3 separate regions of the Homo sapiens genome follow, and all the other regions are linked to region 1. Evidence: fine-mapped expression QTL. A gene starts in region 1. Each other region holds a variant in brackets. All regions are shown on one strand. Distances are between the middles of the regions. Region 1 holds the start of ACER3 (alkaline ceramidase 3). Region 2 overlaps ACER3 (alkaline ceramidase 3). Region 3 has its middle 38 kb from the start of TSKU.

Region 1 (2,762 bases):
AGGAAAACAGACAGACACCCACATAGGCACACAGAACAAGCCCAACCTGACCAGCAGTGCCTGACAGAGCAGCCGCTAAAGAAGAATGCTTAAATCCTCAGAAGGTGCAGTCGGTGGAAGTAGTGTCCTCAGATGACCCCTAACTCCTAGATAGTTGGATAGGACAGAATGGAGCAGGGACTTGGTCCTCTGTGCTCTTGGGAGCCTGGCAGGGGCAGAAGGTACAGGCTAGGTGCAAGATGCCTTCGACTCCTGGTGCAAGATGACAGTTGAATAATCATACTCAGAGAGCAGATGACCTCTGGTACTTGAAGACATCCTGGGGGATAGGGGTGGGATGGTTCAGATCTCAGACTAGTGAAACTGTTCCCTGGAGGTGAGCAAGGAGGTCTAATATTCCAGTGAAAAGGGAAGGGAAAGACGGTAGAATTCTCACGGATTGGGGGAAAGACGAAGCTAGGAACTGTACCCTTCTGGTGGTGGCAACAGCAGAGCAGGTGTCCTGGGCCCTCATTCCAAGGGGCAGGGTCCTCCACTCTCCCAGCCTGGCCCCACTCCGCTCTCGGGCAGGAATTCCCATTCCCAACCCGGCTCTTCAGGCTTTCCCCCTTAGGTCCAGCAGGGGCTCCCCACTTCCCACTGCTCTTCTGCCCCCCCAATCCTCAGGCCCCCTTCCTCCCTCCCAGACCCCGGTACTCCTCCCTCTACACACTGGACTCCCGGCCCGCTCCTCTCAGCCTCCCGCTGGCCCAGGGCGCCGCATTCCAGCTCCCGGGGCCAGGCCTGGCACCTCCCTTCGCGGCCAGGTTCGCTCTTTGCCTTCCTCACACGGCGTCTCCTCAGCCCGGTGCCCTCTCGCCCCCACTCCCCTCCTCAGGCCACACTCACAGAACTCGGCGATGTACCAGGTCACGGAGTAGTTCTCCTCGCACCAGTCCAGCGTGGAGGTCGTGGGGCCCCAGTAGCCCTCTCGGTCCGCGGCCGGAGCCATCACGCCGCCGCCGCCGCCGCCCAGGCGCTCCGCTCACTGTGCCGGGTTAGGCTGGCGACCAGGCCGGCTCCGGCCCAGCCCGCGCGCTCGCTCGCGCCCCGCCCGGCCCTGCCTCCCCGAGGGGCGGGGCCTGGCGCCGTTACTGACACTGCCCTGACGGAGGCCCCGCCCACCGGCGCCGCTGGGCCGCGGGGCCGGGCCAGGCCCGACCTGGTGTAAGGCCCACTCGGAGGGCGCCGGCTGGCCCCGCCCCTCTTCACCCTTGGGCGGGGCAGGGGCGTGATCCAGGAAGGAGCCGGGGGCCTGGGCTTCCTGGCCGGTGCAGACACGCCAATGGCCGTAGGTTGGGGGTTCCTGACATCCCAGAGGCTATATTCTGTCAGGATGTGCCAGAGCCTCTATTTGTGTGCGTGTGGTTTGATTTAATCGGGGCGGGGGTGGGATGAATACTTCTATCAAGCCCTTGCTTGATTAAACCTGTGCGGCGAAGCGCCTCTATGTCTTCCATTGAGCCACAGGCCTCAAATGGAGCCCCAAAACAGAGTACCCCCAACCAATCCCCGTGATTCTCAGGAAATAAACCGTGATTTTCTGATAAAGGTGTAAGTGTCTCTTCGGTACAAAGGGAAAGGGTGAACAACCCAGGACCGAAAAAAAAAAAGTAGGTTCTGAGATCCTAAAAAAAAAGAATGCTGCTAGCTAGAGCACTAAAGCAAAGTTTCCCTGCTTCGTTTGGGCCTCCAAGCACAGAGGTTTCCACGTTCTAACTATAATTGTGCCCTGCTCTTCAGGCAACCAACAGCCTACCCCTACTTCCAACTTCAAGTCTAATACTCCCAGCCCCCGTCTGGGAGTATCGTAGACGGCAAAACCCCGTGTCTACGAAAAATACAAAAATTAGCTGGGCGCGGTGGCTCAGACGTGTGGTCCCAGCTACTTGAGAAGCTGAGGTGGGAGGATCACTTGAGCCCCCGCGGTGGAGATTGCATGCAGTGAGCTGAGACTGTGCCAATCCAGCCTGGGAGAACAGAGCGAGACCCTGTCTCTAAATAAATAAATAAATAAATAAATAAATAAATAAATAAAAAGTCTAGTACTCCACAGGTCTGCCAGAGAGCTCTTCCTAAAACAGATGCAACCACCCTTGCCCCTAGTGTTCAGCTACACCAAACTCAAACTTTCCCCTCTCCTAGAATGCGCTGGGTCACCTGCCTTTGCTCCCACAGTTCAACTGGGACAGCCTAACTCTCTTCTCCGTTTGACCAACTCCCCACTCTTCTTTTAAAATCCAGCTCTCTGAAGCCATCCCAGATGTTTACACCCTAGAGCTTCCTTGCCCTTTGTTCACATCCTACTGTGCTACATCCTGATCAGAGACCTTGCTTTCCCTTCTTTATGGTCTTAGTATTAGGACTCTGCCTGAATACACAGTAAGAAATGAAGAGTAAAAATGAAGGATGATACAACTGCTATTTTCTAAATAAATAAGTCAGATGTGGTGCAAGTCAAAGGTAAAAGAGAGGACAAGGAGAGATGAAGAGCCCACAGCCTTTCTACAAAATAACCATAGCCAATTAGCAGGAAATAGATGCAGAACTTTTATTTGCTAGGTGCAAAACCTAGGGAAGCAGTGTATCTTTTTTTTTTTTTTTTTTTTTTTTTGAGACAGTCTTGCTCTGTCGGCCAGGCTGGAATGCACTGGCATGATCTCAGCTCACCGCAACTTCCGCCCCCTGGGTTTAAGCGATTCTCCTGTCTCAGCCTCCAGAGT
Region 2 (2,762 bases), 25 kb before region 1:
GGCCAAGGCGGGAGGATTGCTTGAGTTCAGGAGTTCAAAACCAGCCTGGGCAACATGCCAAAACCCCGTCTCTACAAAAAATACAAAAATTAGCCAGGTGTAGCGCACACTTGTAATTCCAGCTACTTGGGAGGCTGAGGCAAAAGAATCGCTTGAACCAAGGAGGCAGAGGTTGCAGTGAGCCAAGATGGCACCACTGCACTCCAGCCTGGGCCACAGAGTCAGGCTCTGTCTCAAAAACAATAACAGCAAAACCCCCATAGTACCTTGAGTACCTAGGCATGCTTTGTATGATTTCTCTCCTTTGAAATTCCATTCTCATTCTTCATCAATCCTAGTCTCCCACTATGATCAAAATCCTCCTTTGCAGCCATTTGTTTCATGAAAACGTTTCCAATTTAACAACATCTTCCTTTTCAATCATATAATTGTAACATGCTAACGTATCTCCTAAGTGTTATACTGTCAATGGTATTTCTACCTGACTTGTTCTGAACTGAGTATAAAAAGTTTACTCTCCTGGCTGAAAACACTCCAAAGGCTTTCAACTGCAAATAAAATAAAAGCCAATCTCTTTACCATGGTCTACAAGGCTAACACAATCAACCCCTGCCTATCTCTTCTAATTACTTGCCTTCTTGCCCATCATTCCAAAACACTAATCTTCCCAAAGTTCCTAGACCAAACCAAGTCTATTCCAGCCACAGGGCCATTTGCAGTACTGCCTGGAACATCATTACCCCAGATTACCACATGCGCCATCTCATTCTTCAGGGCTTATGCCAGATGCCACCAACTCAGAGAAGCCTTCCTTAACTACCCTATCTAAAGAAGTCCTCCAGCCATTCTCTATTATATTACCTAGTTTTATTTACAGCATTTATCACAATTAGAAAACACTTATATACTTGGTTAATTGTTTATTTGTCATCTTCTCTCATTAGAATGCATGCTCACGACAACGGCTTTCTTATCTGCTTTCCTCACTGCCATTATGAACAAGTACCTAGAACAGTGCTATGATAACCACGTTTTCTGGCTTCTGTATTTTACGCTTTGGCATCTGGGGCCTTGCTTACCCTGGTGGAATTGCTCCTCCCAGAGCTAGCCAGATAGCAAAGGAGTGCACCTTCCATATGCAAACCAAACAATCCGGAGCCCATAGTCCCAACTACCTCATTTATCAGACTCTTACATGCTAGGCTACTATTCCCCTACCCAAATTACCCCAGGGTCACGTACCATACAACTAGTGGCAGCCCCTACATCCCAGCGCCCACTGAAATTACTCAAAACTAGCCAAGCCTAAGCTGACTCATAATGCCTTGCCTGTTCCTTCCTGCAGGAAGGAATAAAGCTGTATGCCCATGTTTCTCCCCACTTCCTCTGCCCCCCGACTGACCCTGGTGCTTTCCCAAGTGGCCCTACATGGTGTTATTCATCCTGTTTCTAGGAAACTGAGTATAAAAACTT[C/A]TTCCTGGGCAAGGGGAGGGAGAGCATTAGGACAAATACCTAAGGCATGCGGGGCTTAAAACCTAGATGATGGGTTGATGGGTGCAGCAAACCAGCATGGCATATGCACATCTATGTAATAAACCTGCATGTTCTGCACATGTATCCCAGAACTTACAGTAAAATTTAAAAAAAAAACTTCTTCCTTCATGACAGTCATTTCTGTGTCTCTGTGTCTAAACAAACCTGATTAAAACAAATCCCAGGCACCTTTAAATTAAGTGCCTAGCATATAGTACATGCAAATAACATATAAGAATGCAGAAAGGTTGTAAGTAAAGAATAAAAAACGATAATAAATACTTCAAACCAAAAGAACTTTAAAACAAAAAGCATTAGAAAAAGAAGGATCTGGCTGGGCTTTGTGGCTCACACCTATAATCCTAGCACTTTGGGAGGCCAAGGCAGGTGGATTGATTACTTGAGCCCAGGAGTTTGAGACAGCCTGGGCAACATGGCAAAACCCCATCTGTACTAAAAATACAAAAAAATTAGCTGGGCATGGTGGCACATGCCTGTAGTCCTAGCTATCCCAGAGGCTGAGGTGGGAGGATCAGCTGAGCCCAGGAAGTCAAGGCTGCAGTGAACTATGATTGTGCCATTGCCCTCCAGCCTGGACAACAGAGTGAGACCCTGTCTCAAAAAAAAATTAAAAAAGAAAAATGAAAAATAAGAATCCAATTCACCTGGAAGACATCATAATCCTAAACATATTTGCACTAAATTACATAGCCTCAAAATACTTAAAGCAAAAACTAACAGAATAATAATGAAGAAAATAAACAAATCCACCAACATGGTAGAAGATTTTAATACACCTATCTTAATGTTTAATAGATGAAGCAACCTTCACATGCTCCCCCTGTACAAATCAGCAGAGTTACAGAAGACTTTAACATCACAATGGGCTTGATCCAATAGATATTAAAACTAATGAACATAAGAACACTACAATGATTTGGGGGACTTTTACTGTTAGCCATAATGGAGTAACTTGGGACTGGATTTTCCCTTGCAGTTAACAAGCATAAAAGAGGGCAAATGCTATGAAAAAATTCTTTTCAGGCATTGAACAACTAGGTAGCAGAGCAATGTGATCTCTGAGAAAAGGGAAATAAATGAGGTAAACTCAGCTTTCTGGAGGAAGTATTTCTAGACTTTGGTGCAAGGAAAAAAAAAATCCAAGCATAGCACAGCAGTCTTGCAGAGAAAGAGCTCCCAAAATTTGCAAGGAATCTTTGAGTCTACCG
Region 3 (2,762 bases), 39 kb after region 1:
AATATATATTTTATATATAATATATATTAATATATATTAATGTTAATATATTATATATTGTATATTATTATAATTATATTATATTATATATTATTAGAATCATATATTATATTATATTATATATTATTAGAATCATATAATATATAACATTTTGGGATTGGATATATTTCATAATTCCTTTGAAACCTTTACAAGTGTCAATAATGTGTTCCTTTATATTGCTATGCAGGATTTTATAGTATGGATATACTATGGTTTCTATACCTTTCACCTGTTGGAGAGCATCAGAGTTGTTTCCCCTTTTTGACTATTACAGATGATTATTATGAAGGTTTGTGTCCAGGTTTCGTGTGAATATGTCTTCATTTCTCTGGGATGAATGCCTAAGAGTGTGATTGCTGGGTTGTATGATGAGTGTATTGTTTAGTTTTATAACAAATTATAAGACTGTTTTCCAGAATGGCTGTGTCCTTTTGCATTCCCACCAGCTTTGCACAAGTGATCCACTTTCTCCACATTCTTGCCAGCATTTGGTGTTGTCACTATTTTTTATTTTAGCCGCTGTGGTAGGTATGTAGTGTTACATCATTGTGGTTTTAATTTGCATTTCACTGATGGCCAATTATGTGGAACATCTTTTAATGTGCTTATTTGCCTTTTGTATATTTTATTTGGTGAAATATCTGTTCATGTTTTTTTGCCCATATTCTGATTGAGATTTTGTTCTTTTTACTGCTGAGTTTTGAGAATTCTTTATACATACTACATATAGGTTCTTTGTTGGATGTGTGGTTTGCAACTATTTTAGCTCAACCTGTACTTTAATTTTTCATCTTTTTCACAGGTTCTTTTATAAAACAAACTTTTAAATTTTGATGAGGTCCAGTTTATCAATTTTTTTCATTTGTGGAGTCTGCTTTTGATCTGAAGTCTAAAAATCCCTTTGCCTAGTCCTTGATCTTAGAGATTTTCTCCTATGTTTTTTCCTAAAAATTGCAACATTTTGTTTTACATTTAGGTCTGTGATCCATTTTGAGTTAATTTTTATATAAGATGTGAGATAGGAATCAAAGATTTAAAAAAAAAAATTGCCTATGTGCAGCTTAATTTTTTTTTTTTTACCAGTTTCTTTTTTTTTTTTTTTCCAAGGCAGAAGAATTTTTCTTAGTACAGAACAAAATGAAAAGTCTCCCATGTCTACTTCTTTCTACACAGACACGGCAACCATCCGATTTCTCAATCTTTTCCCCACCTTTCCCCCCTTTCCACTCCACAGAACTGCCATTGTCATCATGGCCCGTTCTCAACGAGCTGTTGGGTACGCCTCCCAGACGGGGTGGTGGCTGGGCAGAGGGTCTCCTCACTTCCCAGTAGGGGCGGCCGGGCAGAGGC[G/A]CCCCTCACCTCCCAGACAGGGCGGCTGGCCGGGCGGGGGGCTGACCCCCCCACCTCCCTCCCGGACCGGGCGGCTGGCCTGGCGGGGGCTGACCCCCACCTCCCTCCCGGACGGGGTGGCTGCCGGGTGGAGACGCTCCTCACTTCCCAGATGGGGTGGCTGCCGGGCAGAGGGGCTCCTCACTTCTCAGATGGGGCAGCTGCCGGGCGGAGGAGCTCCTCACTTCTCAGACGGGGCGGTTGCCAGGCGGAGGGACTCCTCACTTCTCAGACGGGGCGGCTGGGCAGAGACGCTCCTCACCTCCCAGATGGGGTCGCGGCCGGGCAGAGGCGCTCCTCACATCCCAGACGGGGCAGTGGGGCAGAGGCGCTCCCCACATCTCAGACGATGGGCGGCCAGGCAGAGACGCTCCTCACTTCCTAGATGGGATGGCGGCCGGGCAGAGACGCTCCTCACTTTCCAGACTGGGCAGCCAGGCAGAGGGGCTCCTCACGTCCTAGACGATGGGCAGCCAGGCAGAGACACTCCTCACTTCCCAGACGGGGTGGCGGCCGGGCAGAGGCTGCACTCTAGGCACTTTGGGAGGCCAAGGCAGGCGGCTGGGAGGTGGAGGTTGTAGTGAGCCGAGATCACGCCACTGCACTCCAGCCTGGGCACCATTGAGCACTGAGTGAACCAGACTCCATCTGCAATCCCGGCACCTCGGGAGGCCGAGGCTGGCGGATCACTCACGGTTAGGAGCTGGAGACCAGCCCAGCCAACACAGCGAAACCCCGTCTCCACCAAAAAAATACGAAAACCAGTCAGGTGTGGCGGCGCGCGCCTGCAATCGCAGGCACTCGGCAGGCTGAGGCAGGAGAATCAGGCAGGGAGGTTGCAGTGAGCCGAGATGGCAGCAGTACAGCAGTACAGTCCAGCTTCGGCTCGGCATCAGAGGGAGACCGTGGAGGGAGAGGGAGAGGGAGAGGGAGAGGCAGAGGGAGAGGGAGAGGGAGAGGGAGAGCTGTGCAGCTTAATTTTTTTTTTCTTTTTCTTCTTCTTTTTTTGAGATGAGTCTCACTGTATTGCCCAGGTTGGTCTCTGACTCCTAGGCTCAAGCAATCCTCCTGCCTCCACCTCCTGAAGTGCTGGGATTACAGGTGTGAGCCACCTCACCTGGCCATGCAGCTGAAATTTAATGGTTGCCAATATTCTGTCCTGAGACATAAGTTACTTAAACAGCCATGCTATTGATGAATCTTTAGAATGTCTTCAATATTTTTGCTATTATAAGTAGCAAAATAAGTATTATTGTAGCTAAATCTTTTACTTACCTATAATTGTTTCCTAAGAAGAGTATTACAGAAGTGAAATTACTGAGGCAATTTTT

The links.
Region 2: its variant is fine-mapped to the expression of ACER3 in whole blood (TOPMed, PIP 0.94).
Region 3: its variant is fine-mapped to the expression of ACER3 in whole blood (TOPMed, PIP 0.90).

What each region holds. Positions count from the first base shown.
Region 1 is chr11:76,859,206-76,861,967 of GRCh38, reverse strand. ACER3 (alkaline ceramidase 3) reads right to left here and starts at 1,050. Exons shown (of 11, transcript NM_018367.7): 1 at 889-1,050. The coding sequence starts at 991. RefSeq lists silencers at 978-1,237, 1,278-1,377.
Region 2 is chr11:76,884,172-76,886,933 of GRCh38, reverse strand. All of the region lies in intron 1 of ACER3 (alkaline ceramidase 3), which reads right to left. Among named protein-coding and RNA genes, the nearest start is that of ACER3, 25 kb to the right of the region's middle. The variant C/A (reference allele first, on the strand shown) is at 1,474.
Region 3 is chr11:76,820,407-76,823,168 of GRCh38, reverse strand. No RefSeq gene overlaps it. Among named protein-coding and RNA genes, the nearest start is that of TSKU, 38 kb to the right of the region's middle. The variant G/A (reference allele first, on the strand shown) is at 1,393.